Regions from separate parts of the Homo sapiens genome. Here region 2 is linked to region 1. The links come from fine-mapping of genetic effects on gene expression. A gene starts in region 1. The other region holds a variant in brackets. All regions are shown on one strand. Distances are from middle to middle. Region 1 holds the start of REPS1 (RALBP1 associated Eps domain containing 1). Region 2 has its middle 41 kb from the start of ABRACL.

The links. PIP is the estimated chance that this variant, and not a neighbour inherited with it, causes the effect.
Region 2: its variant is the best candidate, but not a certain one, in a credible set for the expression of REPS1 in esophagus mucosa (GTEx, PIP 0.56).

What each region holds. Positions count from the first base shown.
Region 1 is chr6:138,985,494-138,990,875 of GRCh38, forward strand. REPS1 (RALBP1 associated Eps domain containing 1) reads right to left here and starts at 2,760. Exons shown (of 20, transcript NM_001286611.2): 1 at 2,037-2,760. The coding sequence starts at 2,189. RefSeq lists silencers at 2,262-2,561, 2,752-2,991.
Region 2 is chr6:139,067,334-139,072,715 of GRCh38, forward strand. No RefSeq gene overlaps it. Among named protein-coding and RNA genes, the nearest start is that of ABRACL, 41 kb to the left of the region's middle. The variant A/C (reference allele first, on the strand shown) is at 3,131.

The sequences.
Region 1 (5,382 bases):
TTCAGACAATCCCAAACTCCCTTAAGGGAATTAAGCACATATTCTCCTTTTGTCTCATATTTCTATGTCTTAGACCAATTTTTAAGTAAATTGCCTTCAAGATATCTAGACTGCTATTTAGTATACATAACTGTAAGAGTTCTGCTCCAGGGAGTTCCAACTTGTAACTGAACCCTGAATATTTAAGCTCTCTCTTTATGCCAAAAGACAATGGAAATTTATTTTTTGAATGTTAATAAAATTGAGCAAAACATAAAAATAACTTGCACTGAATTAAACATGTTTGAAGTAAAGATTCATTAATGCTAATGTGTCTGTCCTAAAAATTACATTTCAAGTTCTAAAGTCTTTGTGTACCCATTAAAAAGATTGAAAGTTTTATTTCAACTCTTTCTCACCTCAAAGACAAACTAAAATAGAACAGAGAAGGCTTTTCCTTAATTTTATTTAGATCCTAACTTGAAGGTATACTTTGTTATTTCTTCAAAAGGAGCAAAAAGAGTATGATTAATGAGCATGTTCTGACCAGATCTCTAAGTCCTACTCCAAAGCTGTAACAGGAGAGTACCATAGACCACACTACCAGCACCCTTCGTTAGCAGACCACAGGCTTTGTTTTGTATCTCCCTGAGCTAAGAATGGCTTTACATTTTTGTGTTTTGTAAACACAAGAAGAAGAATATGCAACAGAGAGCATATGTGGCCAGCAAAGCCCAAAATATTTACTATTTGTCCCTTTTCAACAGGATGAATTTGGGACTCCTCGTTGCCCTTCACTGGCACGTAAGACATCCCACCTTTAAAAAAGCAATGTAAAACACAAGACCATTTAAAAAGATCGAACTCGTTCAACTTAGTCATAGTTAATGCAGACTTAACTTCTAAAACAGAGACCTGTGTGTGGACATTTTTATTCTTCACAGAATTTTTGTTGGAAGAAACTTGCCTTCATTCTGTGGATGAACATACTTATGCTTGAAAATGGAAAGTGCCTGACCCAAAGTCACACTGCTGGTTAACAGCAGAGTAGGGTCAAGGACCCAGCCTTCAAAACCCTGGTCCAATGCTTTGCAGTCCACTACATACACCTATACATGTGGCTTTAAATTTTGGAGATGTGGATAACTAGCTTGGATCAATATAAAAGATGAAAGCTTAAAACCTGTTCCTAACATACTGTTTAGACAGACTCCTACTAGCAGCTATGAATCATTAAACAGAGTAGCATTAATGCTCACCACATACATTAGATAAGAACTTCTAGGAAGTCCTCTGTTTCAAAAGCAGATATGATAAAAAAAGGCTTTAAACCTACAGGGTTTGCTCCTCCAGGGCTTCAGATTAGGGCAAATAACGCACTTCTGCCTACCAGCTGTTCAATACTCATCTCCCAACCCAAATCCACAAGTTCCACAAATGCTTTCGAATGCCTGTTGAAAAACATTGTTCAGTCTCATCACATACACACGTTCTACAGATAATTACAACTTCTTGTATGCCTACTTGTAAAACTACTAAGTAGTTCACATTTTAAAAAATTTCCCTAAGAATTTTGCTTCCTTTAAAAAAACTGCTTCTTCGATTCCTAAATCTATAGAACTCACTTTATCACGTCTTCTCGGTTAATCCAAGAATTAAAAAAACCATTTTGCCCATACTGATAACTTTACTACTCTGCAGGATCCGAAAAGCTCTCTATATGCCAGGTTCTAGGATTCACACACATTAACAACCTAAGATCCTTCAAGTGAGATAGCTCTTGCAGTACAGAGCACAGATTCTCAGGGTCGTGGGGGATACCGGCTGAGGCTCTTCAGACCCCCACCACAGGAGTTCCGTCCTCTAAGGGCAACCCCCTCCCCCTTGGCCGCGGCGCGAGTCCAGGCCTCCCGGGCACCTGCGGCCCCTGCCCGCTGCGGGGACCCCCCGAGGAACCAGCCCCCCGCCGGGCCCCAAGGAATCGGCGCCCACTCCCACTCCTGGAGGCCAGTGACTGCAGGCCTAAGCCGCCCGCCGGCCCCGGGACGCGACGTTACCTGTAGGACCACGTCGTTCGGCAGCTGCGCGGCCCGGAACAGCTCCAGCACCCGCCCGTTGACCACCACCTTCTTGGTGCTCTCAATGTCGCAGTAGGAGAAGAGATCTGAATAGTATTTCTGCTCCGCATCGCTCAGCGTTAAGCCTTCCATCTTCGCCTCCGGCTCACGGCCGCCCCGCCCCGCATGCACTACTCGGGGCCCGGCCCCAGGAACCTGGGCCGGCAGGGGCTGCGCGTGGCCCGGCCTCCTGCTAGCTTCCCGAAAACGCCGGCCCCGGCCTCACACGCGCCAGGTGCGCCCGAGCAACAGGGCCCGGAGGTCGCGAGGAGGGGGCCCGGCTGCGCTCGCCGCGCCGCTGCCTGCGAGGCCCGGCGCGCGGCTGCGGCTGCGGCTGCGACTACGGCTCCGGCTCCGGCTCCGGCTCCGGCCGCGGGGAGGGTGCAGAGAAAGAGGCGGGGGCCGCGGAGGCGCGAGGCACTGGCGGACTCCGCCCCCGCCGCGGGTTCGAGTCTCCCCGGCTCCCTGCCGATTCCCCCAGACTTCCCGCCTCGGCTTCCCCTTCCGTCCACGCCTCCGGAGCGGCAGCGCTTCCCGGAAAGTTGTGGGGCTTCGAACCTAAAGTTTCGGGGGATCTGGGCTGAGCGTGGCCGCCGCTCCGCCTCCCTCCGCCGCCATTTACAGTGCCCCGGCCCGGCCCCGACGCGCCCGCACCAACAGTGACAGCGGCGGCCGCGCTCCAGACCCGGATGTGAGGCCGGGAGGAGAGAGCGCGAGAGGGAGAGAGAAACACCCACCGGGCTGGCTTGGCCGCTCCCGGGAGAGGGAGGAGGCCGCAGCGCCCCCTGGTGGCCGGCGCCCGGCGGCGGGATGACCGAGCCGCCCTCTGCGCGGAGATCTCAGCAGCAAGACCCCCGGAAAGGGGGGTGCAGTGGGAAACAGCCGGCAGCTCATTAAGACCGAGATAACTAAGATCCGGGTTGCAGTTTTTATGTTTCGCAGTTTCTGGTCCTAAGCGTCTGAATAATTGGATTGAAAGGGGAGCCTTGTTCAGGTTATTATCATTCTATCTGTACCTTTTCGGTACAGATGAAGATAAATGCAGTATTTCCATCTGTTCTGAAGGGCTATGAACATCCGGGCTATGAACATCCTGGCTATCCGGGAAGCCTCCACGTAGACACCAACATTGAGGCTTCATCTCACTCGTGCTTCAAGCCATGTTTACCTGAGAAACAAAATGTGCTGAATAGAGGGGAAAACTGGCAAAGTTGTCCTCTTTGTTCACCAGGTCATTCCGGTCACTGGGAACTTAATACTCTACATTTATACCTTCAACTCTATCAACTCATGTAGGCCCGGGGCTGCCCACAGGGGCTGCCTTCCGTATTTTCTCCTTTATGAAAATCATGGAGTGGCGCTCTTTTAATCTGCACCTGTCCCAGAGAGGGGATTCTTCAGCTATTTCAAGTAGAATATCTTAAGAATTTATACTTAGCAAATATAAAATACTTCAAAGACGGGAGCTAAGGCAGAATTACCCAGAGTTCTGGTTTTTATTTTGTCTTCTACAAGTTGTTTCCCAGAGTGCGGATCCTATAAATGACACATATGAGGAAATTATTACAGGTTCCCAGTCATTTATCTGTAATTGCAAAATTCAAAGCGCACTGAAAACCCAAAGACTTTTTTTTGTAACCCTTTGGAAGTAAAACCTGCCCTGCCTCATTTGGAGGCAAAATCTAAACTAAGCTTGCATGAAGCTATTTCTAGCCTTTATGGATCCCACTTAGTGTCAATATTTACTCATTTCACTCCAGGTCTTTGTAGAATGTTAATATGTACACAGTCACAGGCATTCTATTATCTTTCTATTTTTTAAGAAAGATAAGGGATTTTAGACCTGTCAATGTCTTCTGACTTGACTAGTAGTATTTGATAAAGGTAAGTATATACTATCCATTAAGCTTATTTCCCATCTCTAAGACTTTCAGTTTGCTACAGCAGCCCCTCATGTGTCCTTTCAGGGCACCTGCAGCAAGTGATCAGACCCCCCCCAGACAGCTGCCTTCCAAAGGTGTAAACAGAAAGAGCACAATGGGGTAGGGATTGGCTCACAATTGTCTTTGCATCTTTTTCTCTGCCACCTCTCCTAGGCCTTGCAGCTCTTGTCGGCCCCAGGGCCTTTGTTCCTGCCATCTAAAATAGTCCTTCCACAAACCATGGCATGGCGTATTCTCTCATATGGTTTCAGGTCCCTGCTCATATGTCACCTCCTCAGAGCAGCCTTCCTGCAACAGCTGCTGTAAAATAATCCCACCATGCACTATCCCCTTATCTGAATTCCTTTTTTTTCTCTTTTGAGACAGAGTCTCCCACTGTCACCCAGGCTGGAGTGCAGTGGCATAATCTTGGCTCACTGTAGCTTCGACCTCCCAGGCTCAGGTGATTCTCCCACCTCAGCCTCCCAGGTAGCTGGGACCACAGGCCCAGGCCACCATGCCCACCTAAATTTTGTGTATGTGGCTTTTGTAGAGACAGAGTTTTGCCATGTTACCCAGGCTGGTCTCAAACTCTTGGGCTCACCCACCTCAGCCTCCCAAAGCGCTGGGATTACAGGCATGAGCCACTGCACCCAACCTGAATTCTTTTTCTTTATAACACTTTTCACTATCTGACATTACATATATAGCTGTTACATTTTTAACGGCTAATTATTGAATAATTACTAAGTTTCAGGCATTGTTCTAAAGCTTTACACTAATAACCACATTATTCACAACAACCCTATTAAGTGGTACTACTAGGTTTTTTTTTTTTTTTGACAGATTAGGAAACTGAGGCAAAATGGGTTAAGTATTGTGTAAGTCATGTTGCTATTAAATACCCGGATCTGGGATTCAAACTCCAGGCTGTCTCAACTCTAAAAATCACTACCCTATCTTGCCTGTCTAATTTCTTTGTTAAGTTTGTTATTAAGAAAATATTTCTTCACCAGGCATGGTGGCTTATGCCTGTAATCCCAGCACTTTGGGAGGCTGAGGTGGGTGGATTGCTTGAGCTAAGGAGTTCAAGACCAGGCTGGGTAACACGGTGAAACACCATCTCCACCAAAAATACAAAAATAGCCAGGCATGATGGTGTGCACCTGTGGTCCCAACTACTCGGGAGGCTGAGGTGGGAGGATCACTGGAGCCCAGGAGATAGAGGCTGCAGCGAGCAGTGATTGTGCCACTGCACTCCAACCTGGGAGACAGGACGAGACTCTGTATCAAAAAAAAAAAAAAAAAGAAGAAGAAGAAGAAAGAGAGAGAGAAAGAAAGCAAGCAAGCAAGAAAAGAAGGAA
Region 2 (5,382 bases), 82 kb after region 1:
TTATTCTACTTCTTTCTCCCATTTCCTCCCTCTTTCAAACAGTCTTGCTGATCTTGTTCCCAGACAGGCACTTGATGGGAATAAAAGCTGGAGACTGTGCTTAGTGGGCAGAATGAGAAGTGGCAAAGGGGACACTGAGCGGTGGCCCTCATGGGAAGGAAGAAGGAGTAGAAGAAAGTTCTGTATTGGATTGGAAGAAAAAGCTCTTTCTGAAGCAACTTGACTGGGCTCAGTTTTATACTATGCGTGCTGAGGAGCAAGGGCAGATGCCTCTATTCTCTTTATATGTTTGCCACCCTATGCCTGGAGGATTGTGCCCTGTTTTTGCAAGTGTGTTTCAATTAAGTGAATTATATGATAATTAAAAATAAATGCCCAATAAGCTAAGAAAATAGGTTCTCAAGTCTCCTCCTCCCCCTCCCCCTCCCCTTCCCCTCCCCCTCTCCTCCTCCTTCTCCTCCTGCTCCTCTTCCTCCTCCTTCTTCTTCTTCTTCAGACAGGGTCTTGCTCTGTCACCTGGGGAGTGTAGTGGTACAATCTCACCTCATTGCAAACTCCTAGACTCAAGCAATCCTCCCACCTCTGCCTCCCGAGTAGCTGGGAGCACAGGTGTGCACCATCACATCTGGCTAATTTTTGTATTTTTTCTAGAGATGGGGGTCTCACCATGTTGTCCAGGTTTGTCTCCAACTCCTGGGCTCAAGTAATCTGCCTGCCTTGGCCTCCAAAAGTGCTGGAATTACTGGCATGAGCCACTGTGCCTGACCCCATTTTTTTTTTTTTTTTTTGAGATGGACTCTCACTCTGTCATCCAGGCTGGAGTGTAGTGGCACGATCTCGGCTCGGTGCAACCTCCGCCTCCCAGGTTCAGGCAATTCTCCCGTCTCAGCCTCCCAAGTACCTGGGACTACAGGTGTGCACCACCACACCCAGCTAATTTTTGTAATTTTAGTAGAGATGGGGTTTCACTATATTGGTCAGGCTGGTCTCAAACTCCTGACCTTAGATGATCCATACGCCTTGGCCTCCCAAAGTGCTGAGAATACAGGTGTGAGCCACTGCGCCTGGCCTTTTTTTTTTTTTAATTGGTACATTATACCAGGGTTTTTGGACATTATAGAAAGGGCTTTTAAAAATAGTTAATAATCAATGGATATTATAGAAAAACAAAGACTGGCCAGATGTTTCAAACTCAGTGTTTATTTTAACACAATCAAACAAAAATCTGGGTATCATTATCCCTTCTCAACTCTGAGTACATAACCAACACATAAAGCATGATGGTATCTGTATTGTGATGGCTAAATGAACGACATTGTTAGTATACGATTATCATCCCCAAATGTTCATTAAATGCTGATATATTGGTGGAGCTGTGATCAGAGCCTACATAAAGCAAATTAATAAGCAGGTAACCACCCAGGCATCATTCACTACCCAACATTCACATCAATGTTAATAAGATATACAAAATAATGATGTTAGTCTAAGAGGCAATTTTTAGAAATTACTTGGCTGATTCTGTCATACCATTAGCATCTATGAAAATGATAATTTTGACATTAAAAGGGATAAAAAATGGAGGCCACAGTTTAGATATACCTCAAGGCCATCTATCCATACTCATGTAGCCAACACTTGAGTCATCCTGATTTTCCCAAATGCTAGCTCTATTTATAAATGAAACACAAAATATAAGCTTTACATCCTTGTCAACATGATTCAGTGAAATTAAACCAATTAGCTGTAGACAAACAAGCTCAAACAGCTCTGCTTGCCTTAAAAAGAATGTTAACGTCTAAAGGCCAGTCATGAAACAAGTCAAAATACTTGCTCCTTTAATGCTCTATAAACTGTTCCATAACTGCCGTGAACAGGACTTTTTACCATATTTTATTTGAGGTCTCCTTGTTCTCTAACTGTTCCTTTGTGCACCATGAATTTCTACAGTTAGTTTCTTTTATTTTTTTTCATCTGTTATGTTTATTATTCAACAAAGCAAATAAAGTCATGGCTTAAGGGGGAAAATATTTGAAGTAAACAGGACAATATTATTTGTGCAAGTTGCCTTATACAAGAAATTCCAAAAAAACAAACATCCAAAGTGAATGTGCACACTACACATGATTTCCAGTGAAACTGTGCCAGTGACACAAAATGTTCTGACAATAACTTATTGTCGATATGGGGGATAGTTGAATAGATATTTTCCCTAGGAACAATTTTAAAATTTGATCTGATTTTATTTTTAACACAGCAAAACAATTAAATCCATAACCAATTATGTCAGCTATAATGGGATGAATTCAAAGGGCATAGTTTGAATTTAAATTGGTATACATTAAGTGATATATTCATAAATTCATAAATTGATAAAATTTCATATATTTTAAGTGATATATATTAATAATTAAGTAATGTAATATAAAATTCTGGCCGGGTGGAGGTCCATTTTTCTCCTTAAAATAGGAGAATGACTTTTGGGAAGGTGGATGACAATGAAGAACCTTCCTAAACATGGCAGCCCGTTCTCAGGCAGATCAATTTCAAGTAAAACTATCTTTGCTCACGTGACCCTTGGAAAGTCTTCAGGTATCCCCAGGAGTACTCAAGTTTGGAGACCACTGCTATTAAGAACCAAATAAACGGCTGGGCGCGGTGGCTCATGCCTGTAATCCCAGCACTTTGGAAGACCCAGGCGGGCGGATCAGGAGATTGAGACCATCCTGGCTAACACGGTGAAACCCTGTCTCTACTAAAAATACAAAAAATTAGCCGGGTGTGGCGGCGGTCGCCTGTAGTCCCAGCTACTCAGGAGGCTGAGGCAGGAGAATGGTGTGAACCCGGGAGGCGGAGCTTGCAGTGAGCCGAGATCGGGCCACTGCACTCCAGCCTGGACGACTGAGCGAGACTCCGTCTCAAAAAAAAAAAAAAAAGGAACCAACCAACCAAACTTCCTTGACATCTAAACACACCAGGCACATACTCAGTAACAATTATTATTATGCTGAGAAAGGCCAGCTGTCATTTATAGGCAGAGATAGATAGATATAGAATATATAGAGATATAGAAATAGTTAACAATAATTTTTCTACACCCATATAGTAGATTGTGGCATTTTAAATTCCC[A/C]TGTCTCAGAAAGAATGCGATAATTAAATCATTTTACTAATCCCATAATTATCTTTATGTTTTTCAACAAGGAGGGAGTGAGTCTGGGAAAGGCTTCAAGAGTGATATAACTTGAGTGGCACACACCTGTAATCCCAATACTTTGGGAGGCCAAGGTGGGAGGACTGTTTGAGACCAGCCTGGGCAAAATAGGGAGACCATGTCTCTACAGAAATTTTTTAAAAAAAATTATTGGAGCATGGTTGCAGGTGCCTGCAATCCCAGCTACTTGGGAGGCTGAGGTGGAAGGATCACTTGAGCCTGGCAGGTCAAGGCTGCAGTGAGCTCTGATCATGCCACTTCACTATAGCCTGGGCAACAGAGTGAGACCTTGTCTCTAAAAAAAAGAGAAGAGTAGATGTTTGCCATGATGAAGTGAGGGATTAAGGTTATTTCAGGGCACAGAGGAGAGAGAGAAAGGGTCCAAAGACAAAGGACAACTTAGTGTAGCTCAGTTTGTCTGAAGTGAAGGATGGGAGAAATATGGTCAAAAATCAGTCTAGCAAGCCAAGGAAGAGTCAGAGCATATGCTAAGATCTAGTGTTTCTCTTGAAGAAGTTGGTGCTTCATGACACAGGCAACAAAAGCCGTTTAAAGCTTTGGCACAAGCTGAGACTCTAATAAGAAAACCTTGCCATCAGAAAAACGGGAAAACCAAAAAGCAAGGTCTCAAACTGAGGCAGTTAGCTACAGGGTTAGAGAAAGCGGGAATGACAGTAGGGATGTTAGGGATATAAAAGAATCAAGGTTTGGCTACTAGGTGGATGTGGGGAGTGAGAGAGAAGGAGCCATGGGGAATGGTCCAGGTTTCTCGGTTGGTTATGATGTCAGGATTGTGCTTGACTATCACAGTTGGCAACACAATCTACTGCTATTCTGCAGATTTGTGATGCCTCTCCTAGCTTTCTGCGCAACCTTCTTTAGAATGGCTTTTCGTCCTCGTGCTTGTCATCTTGTTAATGTAAGAAGCATGTGCTACTTTCAGCATCACATTGGTCCAAGCTGGATGAAGGGAAGGGTTGCAGGGCAAAAGGCAGAGACAGCCCTTTTAAAAAGAGCCTTCCTGGGCCAGGCACGGTGGCTCATGCCTGTAATCCCAGCATTTTGGGAGACTGAGGTGGGTGGGTCATCTGAGGTCAGGAGTTCGGGACCAGCCTGGCCAACATGGTGAAACCCCCCATCTCTACTAAAAATACAAAAATTAGCTGGGGATGGTGGTGCATGCCTGTGATTCCAGCTACTTGGGAGGCTGAGGCAGAAAAGTTGCTTGAACCCAGGAGGCGGAGGTTTCAGTGAGCTGAGATCACACCACTACACTTCAGCCTGGGCAACAGAGTGAGACTCCATCTCAAAAAAAAAAAAAAAAATAGAGCCTTCCTGGATGTCCCACCCATGTCATTATGATATGCAGTAGCCTGAGCAGTTTGTATAGCTACCCCTAGTTGCAAGGGAGGTTCTTTATTTTTTGGTTGTTGAATTATTTTATTTTTTATATGTGTCTTTGTTTACCTTATTATTTTTTAAAATAAAAAATTGCATATATTTCCAAGAAAGTTTTTAAGCGGAATAGATTGCTTCTCTGAACTAAAAGTGATTCTGTTAGTGAAGAATGGATACTGAGTGGCCAACAACAGCATTTCCCACAGATCATTGTGGAGATGCTAGTTTCATGCTCTGAGACAGGAAATATAGGATGAGTAGCAGGCCTCAGTGGAAAGACAATAAATTCAGTTATGGATGTGTTGTGTTTGAGGTTACTATGAGTTATCCAGCTGAGATATTCAGTTGAATAAGCACGACTAATGATAATCTGGGGGGGTTCTTGACCTATAGATGACAGTTGGCCCTTCTCAATAATAATTGTTATTGATTATGTGTTTGATTATTTTTAGGTATCAAAGCAGGTTGGTTATTTGGTTCTTAATAGCAGTGGCCTTCAAACTAGAATATTCCTGGAGTACCTGAAGACTTTCCAAGGGTCATGTGAGCACACACAGTTCTAAGGGAATCAATTTCTAGGTTCTCAAATTCCATACATACTCTTACTTGAAACTGATCTGCCTGAGAACCGGCTGCCATATTTAGGAAGGGTCTTCATTGTCACCCACTTCCACAGAACTCCTTCTCCCACTTTAGGGACCTCTACCAAGCCAGAATTTTATATTACATCACTTAACTATAGATTTGTTGTAAGAAATCACATTATTTTCTTG